Linked DNA regions of Homo sapiens. The protein of the gene in region 1 interacts with the protein of each later gene in a pairwise test. Each region holds a gene or a part of one and is shown on either strand. Other genes may lie near its edges.

Region 1 (7,038 bases):
CTGAAAACCCTCTGTTGTCTTGTAATCCAGTGTGCCGTCCAACTCCTTGGCTTGGGCCACCAGATGTGTCCCATCACCTCTCTTATTAGCTCCAGCCCCTGACCACATGGGTCCCTCAGATTCTGCGAACCTGAGAATGTGCTGGACTCTGCCTGGGAGAGTCGGCCCTGCCTCACGGCCTGGCAAACTCTTCAGTGAAACTGTTACCTCTCTCGGGAAGATGTCCGAAGGTTGCCTCAGGTGGAGTTGGTTCTCCCTCTCACATTCCTTTGGCATCTGATACTCCCTATCACAGTGGTCACTACAGGTCATGGTAACAGAATGTGCTTGTATATTTTGTTACTATATTAGGGCAGGCTTGGCTTGTTTATGGTTCTATCACCAGCAGGCCCTGCAGGTACCCAAAAGGTGCTTCTGAACCCAGTGAGTGGTGCTTTGGAAGCCCCTGGGACATCCTGTTGGGAAAATCCTACAGAGAAAGTGCTCAGGCTGTAGGGCAGGTGAGGAAGATCTAATACGCAAATCCAGGCAGGCTTTCTCAACTCAGGGCAGAGTAGGGGCCAGCCAGGAGGCCAGGGCAGAGGCTGAGAGCACAGAGGCTGGCTGACATCTTTTTGAGGCACTGAGCCCCCAAGAGTGCAGCCTCCGAAGTGTGGCCCTGACAGCTTCCACTGGAGCCCCAGCAAAGCCTCCTCACTGATCCAAAGGACTAGATTAGTGAAAATCATACGGGGAGAGGGGACAGGGAAGACCCACGAGACAGTGCCCGTGCTGCCCTGAAGCTAGGGAGAAGAGAACTCCATGGCCATGATCTTGTCTAGCTGAGTCACCTTAGACAAGTTCCTTAATGCCCCTCCTGAAGGGTCCTGGCCTGGGGCAAGACCTGTGAGCGACCTAAAGGACTTCAGAAGAGCCTCAGCAAAAACAAATGGCTCCTCAACCTGTCCTGCGTGGAGCAGTGCAGGGGACGGATCCCCCTCATCTGGGCTTTGTCTGAGCCCTTCTCAGAGGATGCCACCCACAGAATAGCGACAGCAAGAGCTCCCAGTCCCACCCCCATCCCAGGCTGAGTCACTCTAAGAAAAGGACAGTGTGGGAAAGGGCAGGGTGGGCCGGAAATGCTTTCTGCATCCCCAAATAACCTCTGGCAGCCTCAGAAGGTCATCAAGCCGGTGCTGGAGCTGGAGCAGCTGCTGGGGAGAGGCTGCTTTGGGTCTTGGCATGGTCTGGTCGGAGGCCCACCCTTCCTGCTTCAAGCCTTCCTTTTCCGAGGCCCCTGCTCGGGCCTGCCCTGGGTGAGGACCACAGCTCAGCAGCCCCAGATCCCTAACTTCCTACTGACTCCTTAAAGACTTGACCCAGCTCCTCCTTCTTCCATGAAAAAACTACTGCAGCTAAGACACCCAGTCACCCTCTCCCATCCTTACCCTGTGGCCAGGTAAGCTGGATAGCTAAGCTAAGCATCCTCACGGGTTCCCCATTGGGCCAAGGGATGATGGGCTCTCTCTGGCCCAGGCATCCCTCCCACATTCCTGCTGAGATGTGCACTAGCCGTTCTCAGGGGCCTCTTCACTCCCCGCCACCAGCTCCCTGGCTTGGCCTGAAGGGACAAGGATGAGGCTCTGACCTAAGGATCCTGTCACCCACTGTGGGCAGAGCACTCTCAGAGGTTGAGACACCCCTGCAGTGCTGGACAGACATGGCCAGACGCAGTTAGGGTTCTCTGCTATCTAGTCACACCTGGCTGCACAGGGTCAGGGTCAGGTCTGTGCGACCTCAAGGTATCAGCTGCCCTCTCTGAAGTGTGGGCTGGTTTGCCTCCCTGAAGGGCAAGGTGAGAGACGCGCTTCAGTGGGGTCTACCTTCTCTGCTGGCCCCACCCCAGAAAGGCCCAAATCTCACGACCAGGTGTGAGGCTGCAGGCCTGGCTTATCCCAGCCAGGAGCGCCTTCTGCTTGTGCCGACCTCTGAGAATACTACAGCCAGTGCCAGACGTCAGCTCCTCTTAAAACACCACTGCTTCCCAAACCTCAGGGAGTCAGTGTGTGGAGAGGGAGGGTCCCTAGCCTCCAAATGAAAAATGTAGAAAAATCCCCAGCCCTCAGCTACACTGAGCCGCAATGACACAGAGGAGCTAGGCAAAGAGGTAACAGTCACCCCAAAGAGAAGAGGGCTGAAGGGCCAGAGAACTGGATTAGTGACCAAAAAGTGGGACAGGAAAGCCCCACAAGGCAGCATCAGGCTCCGATCACATACACATGTCCCCTGACACTGGCACTCAAGGAACCCAGGGGGTTGTTGGAGGCTTCTGCCAATAGAGCCTTGGGCCAACACTGCGAGCAGCAGGAGGGTTTGTGACTTGCTCTGGATTGCATGACCTCCGAGAGACAACCTGGTTCCTGGCTCCAAGGGCAACACTCTTAGCCAGCCTCACACAATGTCACTGATCTGGCATTTTGCATAGTTACATATCCCACAAATCTGTCTCCCATAAAATCTACGAATCCATCTCCCAGCATTACACATTGATCTTGTCTAGCTCAGTCACCTTAGACAAGTTCCTTAATGTCCCTGACACTATTTCCTTGTCTGAAAAATGGGGATGATAGTAAGCACCTGCCTCTTGGTTTTGTTGTACAGATGACATATGAGAACCCAGGCCTGGTGTGGTACCTCGCACACAGTAAAGGCTGAGTACAGGCAGCTGTGTCTCCTGCTGTCATTCCTGAGGGGCTCCCTGGCCCTCTGCCCCCCGGGGGGATTCTCATTAGGTCACTTCTTAAAGCCTCCTGAGACAAGGCATTCAGTGCCCATCCTCCCTGCTCACTATGCTTGGCACCCACTTCCCCCAGTGTGCTCACCACCATGTGGGGAAACAGTCAATTCCATGGTGCTGTGTCTGTCTTCCCAGGTGTGGCCCCTCTGCCGCCCCAACCAGCTCACCTCGGCTGCCCTCCGGCGGGTGCCCTCCCCACTCTCGGCCTCCTCATGCTCTTTGGCGCCCTGGGTGAGGTTGGTGTAGCTGACGAGCTTTCCCAGAAGAGACGATACCTTTGGGCGGATGTCCAGCTCTTCCTGCAAACAGAGCCACAGGGCAAGATGGCATTGGGCCAGGTGGGTGCCAGCTGTGTGGAGCCAGCTGCCTGGTCCCTGGCCCTGTTCCAAGCCCTGAGACAGGCCTGGGCCTGATCCCAGTTCCTACCTGGGGAAGTCCAAGCCATCCAACTGGACAGGTGTGCACACCACACCCCAGCACGTGGCACTCAAAGGCCCAGCCCCGCGGCTGCTTCTCTCTACCCCGCCTTGGCTACAATCACTGCCAGCCCATTTGTGAAAACCACCTGCCTCAGGGGAGAGAGGGCAGGGAAGAACACGGCTGGCAGGGGGGCAATGGCATACTTCATCCTGCCTGCTCTGCCCAGCCACCTCCTGGCTATGGCTGCACCTCTAGGACTCACGCCTACCCTCCCCACAAAAAAGCCACTCTAGTCACCTCAGGGAACCAAAGAGGGCAAAAGAGTGATGTCTGGGACAAGTGAAGTCTCCCTTGTCTGCCCAAACCCTGATCTCCCTGGATGGTCTTCCCCTGACCCCAGTCCTGCAAGTACCCACATCAATCGCGGAGATGGGATCCTGATCCTCCAGCCCATCCTCAGGCGGGGCTGGGCCAAGGCCTTCACCGCAGAACCTTGCTGCTTTCCCAGGTCAGGAGGCCTCCCAGAGCTCAGGTCCCCCAGCCCCACCGGGGTCTAGGCGATGATCCCTGCTCCTGCAGCCTTCTCGAGGCTGTGCTTCTACCTGCCTCCTGCCCACATTTAGCTTTTCCCTCTCTGTCAGCTCCTTTCTGACCTACACACAGGGAGAAGTTGCTTTGGTGTGAGAAAGGAAGACGAGGGCCCTTGGGGGCATGTGGAGATTAAGGAGCCTCGGCCAGATGTGGTGGCTCACAGCAGTAATTCCAGCACTTTGAGAGGCTGAGCAGGAGGATCACTAGAAGTCAGGAGTTCAAGACCAGCCTGGCCAACACGGTGAAACCCCGTCTCTAAAAACACAAAAATTAGCCAGGCATGTGGTGGGCACCTGTAATCCCAGCTACTCGGGAGGCTGAGGCAGGAGAATCGCTGAGCTTGGAAGGCAGAGGTTGCAATGAGCTGAGATCGCGTCACTGCACTCCAGCCTGGGGCGACAGAGTGAGACTCCATCTCAAAATGAAGAAAGAGAAAAAAAAGGCAGATTAAGGAGTCTCCATTACTCAGCCATGCAGTGGCTGAATGCATGGGTCAGAGTTTAGGAGCTTAAACTACGTCTTAAATCCAGATCTCACTGCTCAGCTTGAGTCTGAAGAAGATAAAACTCAAGTACAGAGGCAGATATTTGGGAATCTTTCCAGAGACGTATCCCCTAAAGCTGCAAATGGACCAGGACTCAGGGAACTAGAGAGGGACAGAGCTGGAAGGGTCAACCAAGAAAGACAAGGAAGAATCCATGGGAGAGCGAAGAACCATGGACTTGGAGAAGAACCAGGAGTGGAAGGAAGAGGAGAAATCCTGAGTTGGGAAATCCTAAGCGGGCGTTTCCTTGCTGAGGGGTTGTAAGGAAGTCAGAGGTGAACCACCCTGGAGGTAGCAATGGGGGTGGGATTGTGAGTGGCCTCTGGAAAGGCAGTTTCAGTTGAAAGGGCCAAGGGAACTGCAGCCCGGCTGCCATGAGAACCAGGAACACAAGAGGAGATGAGAGGAAGAGCAAGACAGAGGAGGCCCACGTGTCCAGCCTGCCTGCTTAGCTAAAGCCTCTGTGTGCCAAACCTGTGGCCCAAAATGGCTCCTCAGCTACCTCAAACAGTGCCAGGTTCCTGTCATAGTAGTCAATTCCTCTGGAAGCCTCCAAGGGGGAAAGAAAAGGGCTGCTCTCTCTGTGGTTGCCATGTCCTGTGAAGAGAGAGGGACAATCAGGGCCTGCTTCCTGAGCCCCCCAGCCTGGGCCCCTTCCCAGAAAGCCAGTCCCCAAATCATTTCTGTGGAGCACTTTGGAGCTGCAGTGTCACCAGGTTGCAACTCAGTTTTCACATGGCACCGTGCCAATGCTCTTGAAGGCCCAGGGATAGCCAGAGAGAGGCCAGTGACCAAAACCTGGGACATCATTCCCTCCAGTGAAGGGAATCCAGGTGAGGGCGCAGGCGCCCTAGCACAAGCACGTATGGACACTGAGGGACGGGGCCTGCAGAGGGGCGGGGCCAGCGTTTGACCCGCCCCCAGATCGCCTCCACGCCCCAGTCCCTTTCCCGGTCTTTCCGGAGTACCCAATGTGCAGGATGCCAAGGGTTCGGTGTCCTCAGGGACCGCCCAGGCAGTGCCCTCCAGATAGACGAAGCCGCACACAGCACCTTCGGCTGCCATGGCCCAAAGGTGGCCGGCTGGCTACCCCACCATGCACTGCGCGGGGGGCGTCCTGCAGGGCAGCCCGGGGCATGCCGGGAGGTGGGGCAAGCCCCAGGCCGTGGAGAGCGGAAGTGGATTCCAGGAGCCTTCTAGGGTTGCCTAAGAAAGTCGGACGGGTGGGTGTCGGACTGAGCAGGGAGAAAAATGGGAGCTGGGACTGCTGGCAGGAGCAACACAATGGCCCCCTTGCCCGCAGATCCCGCCGCTTGCCCCAGGCAAACCTCCGCCTACAGCCCTAGGCTGATGAGCCAGTGCCCCAGCTCTGAGAAATCTCGCCAAAAGGAGTGAAATGCTCCTTTTCAATAAGCCTGCCTCAACTCCCAAAGCTCGACTGTTTTTTCTGGCCTCCTATCATTCATTCTTCCCTGTTTTCCAACTCTTGTCCCTTATGAGTCTCGGTGGGTGCCATTCCCAGCTTCCCACCAAGCAGAACGCCAAGCACTCGTTTTCTAGGTGCTGAGTGTTCCCTCCACCCCAGCTACCCTCGCAGCCCCGGCCCTGGCTCAAGGCCTCACAGCAAATGGAAAGCACACATCTTGGTGTTGGATGGCAGCAGTATGTAGTTCTGACATGAGAAGGACTGGCATGGTGTCCAGTGATGGAGATGGCAACAGAACTGTCACCACCAGCCCAGGCTAGTGGTGTGATTGGGCCATGCACTGGCCATGCCCGCCAACCTTTTCTGTTTACATAGGCCACAATTCATTTTTCTTGACTGCAGCTGAGAATGCTGATTGAGGCATCCTCCTGTATCTGATACATCTCTTGCTATCAGCATGAGGCTTCAATTGCTTTCTCTGAGCCAACAACCACTCAGCAGGTGCTGTGCTGTGGATTCTTTATCCCCCAAGGAAACTAACAAATCAAGTGTGCCCATGACAGTTTCTGGGGCAAAGTCAGTTCTTCCTTCCCACAGCATGTGAAAGTGGCACACCTGCTACACCCAGCAACCTGGACTAGCTAAGTGAGCCAAGCAGCTCAGCCCCACATTCACATAGGTCAATGCCAATGGCACAGTGGACAAAGGCAGCCAGAGGTCAAGACAGTCCACCGTGTCATGTTAAAGCCAGGCGGGGTCATGTCGGACACTCTATGATATCTGCTGTACCCTCCATGCTTGTTCAGGATCAGAAGGAGTCCCAAGAAAAATCTGAAAACCCAGTAACACTCTGCCTCTTACATTAATGACATTAATGGCTCTTCAGTGAAAAGCCTTTGAAAATTACTTTTGGATTTTTGTGACAAAAAAAGTGTCTCCCTTTGATAAATCAGGTGCTTCATTTTGTCAGAAAATGCCAGTTATACAGCTCGTCTTACTTCTCTTTCTGCTTTGGCTGCCAGGAATCTCCAAGCTAAATTTACTCTTTAGATAAAGTCACCATCTGTCTCACCTGAGTGCTTGCCCCCTTCCTCTGCATGGTTTTCAATCTTCCTGAGAGTAACAATCACTTGGGGAGACACTTTTGTTGGCTATTTCTTCTGATTCTTTTGTGGAAGTAGGCTGGAAATCAATTATAATTTATTCTAAACTCATGTACTACAGCCTGCCCCATCACTGTTGCCTGGTCTTTCTGGGTAGACTGTATTGCTATCCAGAAAA
Region 2 (7,081 bases), on another chromosome or scaffold:
TTCCCAACCCCTGATCCAACCCCAATGCCCTGAATGTCATGAGAGTCTAGGCCTTACCCAAGATTCTGGCCTTCAAAGGACCCCAGGCCCTTCAAAAGACTCCAGAGTTCCCAGGAATCTGGACCTTGCCCAAAACCCAGACCTCTACAAGAACCCAGGCCTTACCCAAGATCCAGGCCTCCACGAGAACCCAGGTCTTGCTCCAAATCAAGGCCTACATGAGTTCCCAGGCCTTCCCCAAGATTCTTATCTCTGCCAGAATCCAAGCCCTTCTCAAGACTTTGGTCTTCACAAGAATTCAGGCATTACTCAAGATTCCCACCCCCAAAAGAACACAGGTCTGACTCAAGAAGCTGGTATCCTTAGGAGCCCATGTCTCACCCAATCCCCTGGCCTCCACAAGAAAACACCATTTACCCAAACTTCTGATCTTCAGAGGAGCTCAGGCTTTACACAAGACTCTGGAATCTATAGGAATCTTGAACCAAACCAAGAGACTGTGATCTACAAAAATCAAGATCTCTCCCAAGCAACTGACCACCAAAAGAACCTAGGCTCTTCTAAAGATTCTGGAGGTCACAAGAATACAGGCAATGTCCAAGATCCAGGAGTCTGTAGTACCGCAGGCCTTACTGAAGATTCTGGATCACAGAAGGGTCCGTATGTTCCCCAAGACTCTGAAGTCAATAAGAGCTCAGGAGTTATCCAGGAATCTTTTCTCCACAAGAGCCCAGGCCTTGTCCAAACCTCTGGCCTCCCAAAGTGCTCAGGCCTTACCCAAAACTCAGGAGACTACAAGAATCCAGGACTTATCCAAGATTGTGGTGGCCACAAAGTTAAAGGCCTTACTCAAGATTCCAACCTCCCAAGCCTTACCCAAGCCACTAAAGTTGAAAGAAGATTTAGCCTTCCCCAAGATGTTGGAGTTTACAGGAGCTCAGAACATAGCCAAGACTCTAATCTCCACAAGTGCCCAGGAATTAATCAAGATCCTGGCCCCCATAAAGACCCAGCCCTTGTCCAAGACTCTGGCCTCCCCAAGATTTCAGGCCTTACCCAGGAATCTGGCCCCTACAAGAGCTCATGCCTCATCCCAGATCCCAGCCTCTACAAGAACCCAAGCCCTGCCCTAGGTTCTGATTTTGTCCAGCTTTTGTCCCTGCTTCAGACCCCAAAGTCCACACTGTCCCTGATGAAGTCATCTGTGCCTGAGAAGGCTGCTCAGAAGGAGGACGCACAGCGGCACGTCCTCTGGGCTCGTGTCCAACTCAATGAGAACTCCTGCCCTTCCAAGGCCCAAGTGGTCTCCAATGACCTGCAGACCTTCTCAGAGGTACCTGTATTAATTGAGCTGCAGTCATCCTCCTGGCGGGCAGGCAGCCAGCACGGGGCGTACCGCCCTGTGGATACAGTTCCTTCAGGCTACCAGAACTATCGTCAGATGTCTATGCCTACCCATATCAACTGGAAGTCCCACTGCCCTGGACCAGGCACCCAGGCAGGGCATGTGGTTTTTGATGCCCGTCAGAGACGGTTGGCAGTGGGCAAGGACAAGTGTGAAGCTCTGTCTCCTAGGCGCCTTCATCAAGAGGCACCCAGCAACTCGGGGAAACCATCAAGGAGTGGGGATATCAGAATGTGATGAGAACCTTGGACAAAGAGGGGACAAAAGTGCATCAGGAATAAAGAGGCGAGAGAAATGTTCTGTGTTTGTTTGAGGACATCCACCCCAGCCCATCCCCGATACTGGCCACCCACAAAGCCACTGAGGACAGGTCCCTGTTTCTCCTCCATAGCTGCATAGCTAAGCCCATTATCCTCAAGGCCCTAGAGCTCCTCTGTCCCATACACTAGCCATTAGCCAAATGTGGCTATTAAAATGTATATTAGGCCTGGTGCAGTGGCTTACACCTGTAATCCCAGCACTTTGGGAGGCCGAGGTGGGCGGATCACCTGAGGTCAGGAGTTCGAGACCAGCCTGGCCAACATGGTGAAACCCCGTCTCTATAAAAATACAAAAATTAGCCGGGCATGGTGGTACACGCATGTAATCCCAGCTATTCGGGAGGCTGAGGCAGGGAGAATCACTTGAACCTGGGAGGCGGAAGTTGTGGTGAGCCGAGATCGCACCATTGCACTCCAGCCTCGGTGACACAGCAAGACTCTGTCTCAAAAAAAAAAAAAAAAAAAAAAGTAGATGTTACTGCGGAACACATTTTTAAATTTTGTTTAATTTTAATTTACATTTTCTTTTTTTCTTTTTCTTTTTTTCTTTTTTTTGAGACAGAGTCTCGCTCTGTCACCCAGGCTGGAGTGCAATGGCGCGATCTCGGCTCACTGCAACCTCTGCCTCCCAGGTTCAAGCAAGCGATTCTCCTGCCTCAGCCTCCTGAGTAGCTGGGATTACATGCGTGCACCACCACGCCCAGCTAATTTTTGTCTTTTTAGTAGAGATGGGGTTTCACCATGTTGGCCAGGCTAGTCTCGAACTCCTGACCTCAAGTGATCCACCCGCCTCGGCCTCCCAAAGTGTTGGGATTACAGGCGTGAGCCAGGGCGCCTGGCCACATTATCTACATTTCAAGTGCTCAACAGCCACAGGTGGCTGCTGGTGGCTACTGTATCAGACAGGACCAACTCAGGACATTGCTATCGTCACAGAAAATTATATTGGAGAGCCATGCTTTAGAGTTTAGAGGAACTATTCCTTGTCACCCATTCTTAACATCTTCAAAGCTTCCACAGAGTCCAGAGAACTTAGTTCTTTTTAGAGTGCCTCGGAAGCCACCCTCTGGGAAGGAGGTGAGATGCAGGGATGTCTGATGCCTGGTTACTCCAGACTGTGAGAAACAGCCCAGTCTCCAGTTCTCCTGATCTGGCCTCTTGGGTCACAGCCAGATGTGTGTGTACGGGAACCTACTTGCGCAGTTCTGGGCTGCTTTGGTGCTCTCGCTTCTCCCAGGGACCCCAGCTCTGGTTGCTGAAGGAGAAAACTCTCTGTCAGTGACGAGGAACCCCTGAGTCCTGGGCTTGCCAAATTGATCTCTACAGTTGGGGAGTCTCTTCTTTTACAGGCCTCTAATTTTCCTAGATGTCCTCCTTAATTATCTTATCCATGGACTTAGGCCTATCCCGTCCTGGAGACAGACCAAGGGCAGAAGGAATGTAAGAAGTCGTGGCCCAGGCCGGGTGCAGTGGCGCGTGCCTATAATCCCAACACTTTGGGAGGCCGAGGTGGGAGGATCACCTGAGGTCAGGAGTTCAAGACCAGCCTGGCCAACATGGTGAAACCCTGTCTCTACTAAAAATACAAAAAATTAGCCAGGTATGGTGGCAGGCGCCGTAATCCCAGCTTCTCGGGAGGCTGAGGCAGGAGAACTGCTTGAACCCGGGAGGTGGAGGTTGCAGTGAGCGGAGATTGCGCCACAGCACTCCAGTCTGGGCAACAGTGCGAGACTCAGTCTCAAAAACAAAACAAAACAAAACAAAAATTTGAGATCCCAAAGTGTTTTCCCTGCCACGACTCAGGTAGCAGTGAGCTGAGGTGGGCATCACTAACATGTATGTCTCTCCTATGAGTCAAACGTCCATTTCTGGGTCACCATCTGTGTGCTCCTGCCTAACACTACCACTTTTGGGATTCCAAGATGCACCCCCCCCACCCCACCCAGGCAGGGGTCCCTATCTCTCCCCAGGCCCTAGGGTGGAGTTTCGCTCTTATCACCCAGGCTGGAGTGCAATGGCACAATCTCAGCTCACTGCACCCTTTCCCTCCTAGGTTCAAGTGATTCTCCTGCCTCAGCCTCCTAAGTAGCTGGGATTACAGGCGTCTGCCACCACGCCCGGCTAATTTTTGTATTTTTAGTAGAGACAGGGTTTCGCAATGTTGGCCAGGCTGGCCTTGAACTCCTGACCTCAGGTGATTCACCCGCCTCAGTCTCCCAAAGTGCTGGGGTTACAGGCGGGAGCCACCGCGCCCGGCCCATCCCTCATTATTTTTTGCGACTCAGAGCCATCCTATTACCCCTCTCAAACCCCAAGGAATGTTTGAGTGGGGTTGATATGGGTGTGAAAAGACACAGAATAATCTGTCTCCAGAGGAACTACAACTTCCATCAGGCACTACTTCAGCGGAACAGGAAAGGATGTGGGGGCGTGGCTACCACGCCCTAGTAGAGCGGGAAACTACAACTCCCAGGATAACGCGGGATTTCAGCAGGGCCAAAAGAGTGATTGAGCTCTGACTGGCGACCCGACCCGGCGGAAACCACCTCGACAGCCTCCAGAAAGGGGCGTGGCTGAAAATGTAGGGGCGTGGCCACGTGGGCATCAGGAAGAAGTAACCTGTTGAATCTATTTCTGCTCCCCACCCTTACTGCTTCCCATAAGGGGGAAGCCGCAGACTAATAAGCCTCTTCCAAAAAAGAGGTAAAGGGAGGTAGACAAGGGGCGGCAGCGGAGGCTGGCTACTGCATTCCGTAGGAGGAGCCAACAGTTACTTTTTACCTGCTGAGTCCGGTGAACCAGTTCATGGGGGCGGGGACCTGCCTATGAGAAAAGGGCCAGGATAGAAGAGGTATTTATTTGTTCATTTTGAGGACTAAATTTAGAACCCATCATCTACAGACCCATTTGTAGGTTGTGTCTGGGGCACTCGCTCGGCCTCAGGAAGAGGGAAGAACGGGGACGACTTTGTGGCAGCAAAGCCACCTCCCTTCCGTGTTTTCCGCAGCCCAAAGCGATAGAACCGCATGGCTTCCGCAGTCTGGGGGAGTGCCCCCTGGTGGGGCCCGCCGCCCCCGGCCCCAGCTCGGCCGCTCACGGACATCGACTTCTGCTCCGGGGCGCAGCTGCAGGAATTGACCCAGCTGATCCAGGAGCTGGGTGTGCAGGAGAGCTGGAGTGACGGGCCCAAGCCGGGAGCCGATCTCCTCCGGGCCAAGGACTTTGTCTTCTCTTTGCTTGGTAAGTAACCCTACTTGCCTTTGGGAACTCACAGCTCTCAGCCTCACCACGCCCCCGCCCCCGCCCCGGCTTTGGGCGACGCCCTCACGATCCGTTCCCTTTTTTTAGGTCTAGTTCACCGCCGGGACCCTCGCTTTCCTCCCCAGGCAGAGCTCTTGCTGCTTCGTGGTGGGATTCGCGAGGGCTCCCTGGATCTGGGGCATGCACCCCTGGGTCCCTACGCCCGGGGACCTCACTACGATGCCGGCTTCACACTCCTAGTGCCCATGTTTTCACTGGACGGCACTGAACTGCAACTGGACCTGGAATCCTGTTACGCACAGGTCTGCCTCCCAGAGATGGTGTGCGGAACCCCCATCCGGGAGATGTGGCAGGATTGCTTAGGACCCCCAGTCCCAGGAGCACGTGATTCGATCCACCGAACGGAGAGCGAAGAAAGTTCCAAGGACTGGCAAAGCTCTGTAGACCAGCCGCACAGCTACGTCACTGAGCACGAGGCGCCGGTGTCTTTGGAAAAATCGCCTAGTGACGTTTCAGCGTCCGAGTCGCCTCAGCATGACGTCGTCGACCTTGGCTCTACCGCACCTTTGAAAACAATGAGTAGTGACGTCACCAAGGCAGCCGTCGAAAGCCCAGTCCCAAAGCCGTCGGAGGCTCGGGAAGCGTGGCCCACATTATGTTCCGCCCAGGTGGCTGCCTGGTTCTTTGCTACGCTGGCGGCGGTCGCCGAGTCTCTGATCCCTGTCCCGGGTGCTCCGCGTCTGGTGCACGCAGCTCGCCACGCGGGTTTCACCACCGTCCTCCTGGCTACCCCTGAGCCCCCTCGCCGCCTCCTGCTCTTCGACCTGATCCCAGTGGTGTCCGTGGCGGGCTGGCCCGAGGGGGCTCGGAGCCACTCGTGGGCCGGTCCGCTGGCCTCTGAGTCGGCTTCCTTCTACCTGGTGCCCGGTGGCGGCACCGAGCGGCCGTGCGCCTCCGCCTGGCAGCTCTGTTTTGCCCGCCAGGAGCTGGCGCTCAAAGCGCGCATACCAGCGCCGCTGCTGCAGGCGCACGCGGCGGCCCAGGCGCTACTGCGCCCGCTGGTGGCCGGGACCCGGGCGGCGGCGCCCTACCTCCTGCGGACGCTGCTGTACTGGGCGTGCGAGCGGCTGCCTGCGCTCTACCTGGCGCGGCCAGAAAATGCGGGCGCCTGCTGCCTCGGGCTGCTAGACGAGCTCGGCCGAGTGCTCGAGGCCGGGACGTTGCCTCACTATTTTCTGAACGGCCGACAGCTCCGTACGGGGGACGACTCCGCTGCGCTGCTCGGAGAATTGGCCCGGCTCCGCGGGGACCCGGCCCGGGCCCTCCGTGCCGCGGTGGAGGAGGCCAAAGTGGCCCGCAAGGGGGGCGGTTTGGCGGGCGTGGGGGGCGGGGCCCATTAAAGACGCTGTTCCTACCAGTGGAAAGTGCCTCTGTGGGCGAGCGGGACGTGGGGGGCCCTGCTCGCCCCTCGCCAGGGGGACTGACTGTGTGCCCTGGGCCTGAAGCCCCCCTTCTGGAAGACCTCCCTGTTGGTTCCTCCTCTACGCCCACCCGCCTGCCCCCGCACAAGTTGCCCCATTCCAGCCTCGCTATTCTCCACATCTGTGGCCAGCACTCCGCCCAGGGGCAGCTTCCAGAAACCGTCTGTCCCCAGTTCTTTTGGTCATTTCTCTTAAGGGCCAATAGAAATGGGAGAAACATATTTGCTGACCAAACGCGAAAAGGAGTTATGGAGACCAGGGTCTGATCAATTTGGCTCACACAACGGCAGAGATATGAAGGAGGCCGGATTTCGCCCAAGGCTGGATCTCACCACCCCCCATCCTCCATCTCTCCAGTTCTTCCCCCACTTTACTCGTGCGGTTCTTTCTTCACTAACATCCCGGCCAGTAGGGTCTCTCTCCCTTCTCCCAGCGTCCGCCATTCCATCTCCCTTAGGCCCAACCTCTCCTTCCTACCCAGGGGTGCGTTCAGGAGGCCTTCCTGTCCCTCCTCCTCTGAAGGCTGAGACGTGCGGCCTTGCCTCGGCTTTGCCTGCTTGTAAGACACAGTCCGCACTCTCTACCTCCAAGGAACCCCGGGGTTCCTCCTGCCC
Region 3 (7,038 bases), on another chromosome or scaffold:
TTTTGTATGTGGAAATCCAGTTGTTCCAGTACCATTTGTTGAAAAGGTTGTTCTCTCTCCAACTGGTCACCCAGGTCTTGGCACCCTTGTTGAAAATCAGTTGACCATAAATGTAAGGGTTAATGTTCTATTGATCTGTAGGTCTGTCCTTGTGCCAATACCACATAGTAGTTTTGTAGTAAGTTTTGAAATCAGGAAGCACGAGTTATCCATCTTCGTTGTTCCTTTTTTTTTTTAATTCAAATATATATATTTTTTCAATCTTTTTAATTCTACATATTTTTGTAAGCATCCCCCCAATTCTTGTTTCATAGTAAATCAGACTGTAGATGAAGCATTTCAGACCTTTTGTCAATCATGTCAAGTGTGAGGGGAAGTCTTTTGTAAGTCAGCCAAGTATTTCAAAATGAAAAGCTTTTCCAAAAGTAAAGGCAGAAGACCCCGCTTTGAAGGCGCTGGTCGGCACAGAAGGGCTTGCAAAGGTATGTAGGGAAGTCCACCGGTTACAGGTGTAAGGTGAGTTTAACCTACGGCGACCAGCTGGCCAGGAGCGCCCCAAGGCAGACGAGGACGTGGGGCTTGGGCGCACGGCCGCCTGCAGCCATCTCGCCCCAGATCCTGGCTCAGGAAACGCAGGCTCGGGCTGGGGTGGATGTGTGCGCCCCAGGGCCCTGGCACCCGGGGGACCGAGGGCTCCTCCCAGGTCCTTGGAACAGCAGAGTGGCTCCCAGGAAGGATGCTCAGCTGCAGGTGGGGGTCCCTGCTCCCAAGCACCCTGGCCAGGGAGGAATGGCGCACCCCACCCCGTTCGCCCCTGTTGTTCCTTTTCAAGATTGTTTTGGCTGTTGATCTTTTTCAATTCCTTATGAATTTAGGATTAGCCTGTCAAATTCCACGAAAAGGCAGCTGGGATTTTTTTTTTTTTTTTTTTGAGATGGAGTCTCAATCTGTCACCCAGGCTGGAGTACAGTGGTGCAATCTTGAGTCTCGGCTCACTGCAACCTCCGCCTCCCGGGTTCAAGCGATTCTTCTGCCTCAGCCTCCTGAGTAGCTGGGACTACAGGTGCGTGCCACCACGCCTGGCTAATTTTAGTAGGGACGGGGTTTCACCGTCTTAGCCAGGATGGTCTCGATCTCCTGACCTCGTGATCCACCCACCTCGGCCTCCCAAAGTGTTGGGATTACAGGCGTGAGCCACCGCGCCTGGCCTTTTTTTTTTTTTTTTAGTAGAGACAGAGTTTCTGCACGTTGGCCAGGCTGGTCTTGAACTCCCGACCTCAGGTGATCCACCTGCCTCGGCCTCCCCAAGTGCTGGGATTATAGGCATGAGCCACCACGCCCGGCCTGAAATTGTTTTATTTCATTTTCAGTTTTGTTTTGTTTTTTTTTTTTTAATAGAGATGAGGTCTCACTATGTTGCATAGGCTGGTCTTAAACTCCTGAGCTCAAGCAATCCTCCTTCCTCAGCCTCCCACAGTGCTGGGTTTATAGGCATGAGTTACAATGCCTAGCCCATTTTTAGTATTTTATAGCTATAGTGGATAGAAATATAATTGATTTTTATATTGACTTGTGTCCTGCAAGCTTGCTGAACTAAATTTATTAGCTCTAATAGGTTTTTTTTTGTGTGTGTGTGGATTCCTTAGGATTTTCTATATATAAGATTGTATCTTCTACAGATACAGTTTTACTTCTTCCTTTCCAATTTGGAAGCCTTTTGTTTTATTTTCTTGCTTAATTGCCCTGGTTCAAACCTCTAGTACCATGTTGAATAGAAATGATGGGACTGGGCATCCTTGTTAGGTTTTGTTATTAAGGAGAAAGTGTTCGGTCTTTCACCTTTAAATATAATATTAGCTGTGGGGTTTTCATCAGGTTAAGGAAATTTTTTTTTTTTTTTTTTTTTTTTTTAGATAGTGTCTCACTTGGTCACCCAGGCTGGAGTGCAGTGGCGCAATCTTAGCTCTCTACAGCGTCGATCTTCCTCCTGGGCTCAAGCAATTCTCCTGCTTCATCCTCCTGAGTACCTAGGACTACAGGCAAGTGCCACCATGCTTGGCTAATTTTTGTATTTTTTGTAAAGATGATGTTTTGCCCTGTTGCCCAGGCTGGTCTCAAACTCCTGAGCTCAAGCAATCCGCCCACCTCAGCCTCCCAAAGTGCTGAGATTACAGGCATGTGCCACTGAGCCTGGCTGAGGAAGTTTCTTTTTGTTCTTAAATGGCTTTCTTTTTTTTTTTTTTTTTTCGTAAAAGGATGTTGGATTTTGTCAAATGCAATTTCTGCACCTTTTGAAATGATTGTTTTAGTTCTTATTGTATATCATGTTGATTGATTTTTGTATGTTGAACCAGCCTTGCATTCTTAGAATAAATCCCACTTGGTCAAGGTGTATAATCTTTTTGTGTATGTTAAATGATATTTAATGTATAATAAATTTAAACCTTTCTTTGCCCCAACAGAAAATGATCCACAGTCTATTTCTCATAAACTGTTCCGGTGACATATTTCTAGAGAAGCACTGGAAGAGCGTTGTGAGCCAGTCTGTCTGTGATTATTTCTTTGAAGCTCAAGAGAAAGCTGCTGATGTTGAAAATGTACCACCTGTCATTTCAACACCTCACCACTACCTCATCAGTATCTACCGGGATAAGCTCTTCTTTGTATCTGTCATACAGACCGAAGTGCCACCTCTCTTTGTAATTGAGTTCCTACATCGAGTTGCTGACACTTTTCAGGTTGGTTATCTATCATACCTTTCTAAGTTAAATGACCCAAGTTAGCTGAAGGTGAGACATGATTATATTATTTAATTACCCAGGTTTTGATGTTTACTGTCTGTCTCTCTCTGTTTAAGCGTAAATTCATAAGCCCTTTTCTGTGTGGTATACAGTTACACACATGGCTGCTCTATTCACTATTTTTTATATGTATTACAGATTACAGTTGGCTCTCCATATACATGGGTTCTGCATCCATAAAGTCACCCAACCTTACATGGCAAATATTTGAACAAAAAAATCGAACTGAACATGTACAAACTTCTTCTCATTATTACTTGAACAATACAGTATAACAAATAGTTACATAGCATTTACACTGTGTTAGATATTACAAGTAATCTAGAGGTGATTTAAAGTATATAGGAGGATGTGTATAAGTTATGTGCAAATACTATGCCATTTTATGTCAGCGACTTGAGAATTGTGAACTTTGGTATCTACAGGGGATCCTGGAACTAATTCCCACAAATACCAAGGGATGACTGTATATCATCAGGAAACAATAATGCCCTCCGCATACAGTTCTCTCAATGGTCTCAAGATTTTCATTGGTTATGAACTCTTCTATATTTACATTTTATTATTTTGTCTTGCGGAATATACCAAATAATTTAAGCTTATCTATATGTATTTTGGGATAATCAGGGTGAATGAAGTTTATAGCTCAAATTCCAATTTAATGTTTCAATACTTTCTGGTATAATATGTAATAGGAATTAAATTCAACCTAGAAATATCAAGAAAATATTGAGGAATAATATTAGGACTATAGAGGGGTTTTTTTTGTTTGCTTGTTTTGTTTTGTTTTGTTTTGTTTTGTTTGAGACGGAGTCTCACTCTGTTCCCTAGGCTGGAGTGCAGTAGCATGATCTTGGCTCACCGCAACCTCCGCCTCCCGGGTTCAAGCAATCCTCCCGCCTCAGCCTCCCAAGTAGCTGGGACCACAGGTGTGCACCATCACACTCAGCTAATTTTTGTATTTTTAGTAGAGACAGGGTTTCACCATGTTGGCCAGGCTGGTCTTGAATTCCTGACCTCAAGTGATGCATCCGCCTCAGCCTCCCAAATTGCTGGGATTACAGGCATGGGCCACCATGCCCGGACTATAGAGGGTTTTTTCCCCCGCTCTGTTTTATATATGTTCAGCAGCTTAAGCAATGAATTATGCTACTCTAAGTTTATTCTTCAGAACAAAAAGTATTTAGCAGGCCTTTCTTTTTGCCTTCCATTGTGTGATATTTTGTGTGTATTTTGTCAGGACTACTTTGGTGAGTGTTCAGAGGCTGCAATTAAGGATAATGTGGTCATAGTATATGAACTCTTAGAAGAAATGTTAGACAATGGATTTCCACTGGCTACCGAATCTAACATTTTGAAAGAATTGATTAAACCACCAACAATTCTACGCTCTGTTGTCAACTCTATTACAGGTAAGATGAAAACATACTGTGCTAGTAACTGAGCAATTAAAACTTTGTAAACAACTCATTATTGCTCATGATCTGACATATTATTAAGGTAGTACAATTTGGCCATAATTAAAGTTACTGGTAAAGTTAAAATGGATGTACTATATATTTATTTTCATGGAAAGAGGCTAGACCTTAAGTGATAAAGAACTTTTGGTTATTACTCTTTTTTTTTTTCTAAAACACCACAACAATATTATTACCATTATTTAACACTAAATACTAAGACTGAATAAATTGTTCCAGTTATTCCTAAAGAAGCCAGTATATGAGCCCACTTAGAAGAGAATTTAGTCCATTTATAGACTGGCATTTTAATATTTAAAATAGCATTACATAACTGGTATGCTGCTACTCCACAATTACTAGAGAATAGAAAATTTAAGACGCTTAACCACACAGTACTACAATCTCCTCCAAGTCTTTGTTTTTATGCATTCAGAAGATGTATTAAGAAAAAATAGGAAATAGTTTACTTATGAGATCTCATGCATTGTGGGCCTGTACTTGTGTTGTAAGCTTCCAGCTGGGTTTAATTCTTGAGTGTAGCTAGAAATTAGGCACATCCAGATACCAATATTCTTTCGAAAGCATTAAAGTCTTTTAGACAAAGATTCCTATGAAATGTTATATGCCACTCCAACTCCACTGTCAACCATTGTAAACCCCTGTCCAGTGCCTTGACCTAAAAATGAGGTGAGAGAGGCCTATAAGAAAAAGATCATTCAGCAGCTCTTTATTCATCCTTTGTGTAAGGACGAATGTTAGGAGAAATTCAAAGAAAGATAAGATGGTGTGTCTGTACTCCTAAAACTTATACTCTGAATGGGACATTGGAAAAAAAATTAAGTAAATAACTGTATAAGACTTTAAAAAGCAATTCCATACTTCACAGATAAAGTAATAGCATTGGAAAATAAATACACATGATGTAACGTTAAATTGAAAAGTCAGCACAAAACTGAAAAAAATTATTCTTATATATAAATATTCACTCCGACAAAAAAGTATTTACAATGATTATACCCAGCTAAATACAGATTATATTTATTTTTGCTTTATACTTTCTAATTTTCCAAAATAAACATGTATTTTATAGTCAGAGAAAAGTTACTAAAATATATAATGCAAAACATAACAGATTCATTAGATAGTGTATTACAAAGTTCAAGAGAATGGTTCCATTAATGAAGTAATCCCTCCTGAACTGTGGTGGGTGGCCACCTTGGAAAATCAGTAGAATTCAGGAAGTGAGGAAGGAATAAGAGCATTCTCCATGGTGGAACTGTATGAGAAAAAAACACACATGAAAGAGAAAAACCTAAAGTTTTATTAATCCCTTTAGCAGAAGCAGAACTGTTTTTCACTTGAGAAGTTAGAGATCAAATTAAAAAGTAGAGAAAGTCCTTCAAAGCTAGGATAAATATTTAGCTTTTATCATAAAGCCAGTGAGCAAACATTGAACGTTTTTGAGCAGGAAGATAACATGATTATAGGTTGCAGGTAGGAACACCAATCATAAGTAGACTGCAAAATTGTAGATACAGTATGATTGCGACTATATTTTAAAGTGCAATTAAAAACCAAAATTATCAAAATAGAAAAAAATGCAACCTTCTGGTGGTGGAAATATTCAAAGAAATATACCAAAATGTTAATATTATATTAAAATGTTAATACCATAATATTAACAAAAATGTTAATGGTAGATATATTTTGTTAGTAAGAAGACAGGTGTTTTTCTTTAAACCACTTCTCTGAACTCTACCTTTTTGTTGTTGTTAAGTATGTAGTACTTTCGAATGGGAAATATAAATTAACCAAAATATTAAGTAAGTCACAGCTCAAAGATATGTGTTTTGGACAACCAGACTTATTTTTAGGCATGTGTCAGTTTACCAGGAAATGAGCTGGATACTGAATACTAGCTATATTGCAGCCGTATGGGTATGCTGACCTTAAAATAGGAAAAGGCCAGATTCCATTTACTCCACTGAGGCGTGCTTGGCAGCATCTCATGTAAAATAAAGTTGAATACTGAAGGGCCTAGTTATAACTCTGTATTCTCACTGGAGACATTTTATTGGCAGAAGGTTTTGAAACAACCAACCTCTTTTTTCATCAGTGGCAGAGATTCTGTTGTTGAGCCACTGGAATTAGATTAGATTACTGTTAACACACAGGAGGCAAAAGATAAGTAAATAAATTTAACCTGGTTTGGCAGGTAGACAGAGGGCCACATGGCCTATATTTCTTTTCTAGAAATTTGATCATGTTGGTATGGATATGTCTGACAATTCTAGTGACCATCCACAACTTCATTAAGAAAAATCCAAACATTGAAGAAGCAGCTTTTTTTTTCCTAGTAATAAATTTTCTCATGACTGTTTTATACATCAGCTTTGCCTTCTCCTTTTTTGGTTTCTAGGCAGTAGTAATGTTGGGGACACACTCCCCACCGGGCAGCTGTCCAACATACCATGGCGTCGGGCAGGGGTAAAGTACACAAACAATGAAGCCTATTTTGATGTTGTTGAAGAAATAGACGCAATTATAGATAAATCAGGTAATTGTGTGCATGTCATCTTATTTGGGGAAAAACAATTCATCTGACACAGATGAATAGAAAACTGAAGTCCTGGCCGGGCGCGGTGGCTCACGCCTGTAATCCCAGCCCTTTGGGAGGCCAAGGCAGGCGGAACATGAGGTCAGAGTTCGAGACCAGCCTGGCCAACATGGTGAAACTCTGTCTCTACTAAAGATACAAAAAATTAGCCGGGCATGGT

The links.
Region 2: the proteins of SLC12A4 (region 1) and TMEM102 interact in binary tests that used the Homo sapiens proteins (3 or more experiments, as listed by UniProt).
Region 3: the proteins of SLC12A4 (region 1) and AP3M1 interact in binary tests that used the Homo sapiens proteins (3 or more experiments, as listed by UniProt).

Annotation. Positions count from the first base shown.
Region 1 is NC_000016.10:67,958,632-67,965,669, forward strand, and holds part of SLC12A4 (solute carrier family 12 member 4), read right to left. Parts: intron 5,422-7,038; exon of another isoform or gene 5,397-5,421; coding exon of another isoform or gene 5,300-5,396; intron 4,929-5,299; coding exon 4,834-4,928; intron 3,076-4,833; coding exon 2,944-3,075; intron 1-2,943. UniProt on the Homo sapiens protein: Mediates electroneutral potassium-chloride cotransport when activated by cell swelling. May contribute to cell volume homeostasis in single cells. May be involved in the regulation of basolateral Cl(-) exit in NaCl absorbing epithelia.
Region 2 is NC_000017.11:7,431,121-7,438,201, forward strand, and holds TMEM102 (transmembrane protein 102), read left to right. Parts: upstream 1-4,314; 5' UTR 4,315-4,576; exon of another isoform or gene 4,577-4,732; 5' UTR 4,733-4,751; coding exon 4,752-4,965; intron 4,966-5,073; coding exon 5,074-6,386; 3' UTR 6,387-6,559; downstream 6,560-7,081. Other genes in the region: uncharacterized protein SPEM3, read left to right, coding at 1-1,642.
Region 3 is NC_000010.11:74,133,807-74,140,844, reverse strand, and holds part of AP3M1 (AP-3 complex subunit mu-1), read left to right. Parts: intron 1-1,913; exon of another isoform or gene 1,914-2,039; intron 2,040-2,462; 5' UTR 2,463-2,465; coding exon 2,466-2,738; intron 2,739-4,041; coding exon 4,042-4,213; intron 4,214-6,680; coding exon 6,681-6,818; intron 6,819-7,038. UniProt on the Homo sapiens protein: Part of the AP-3 complex, an adaptor-related complex which is not clathrin-associated. The complex is associated with the Golgi region as well as more peripheral structures.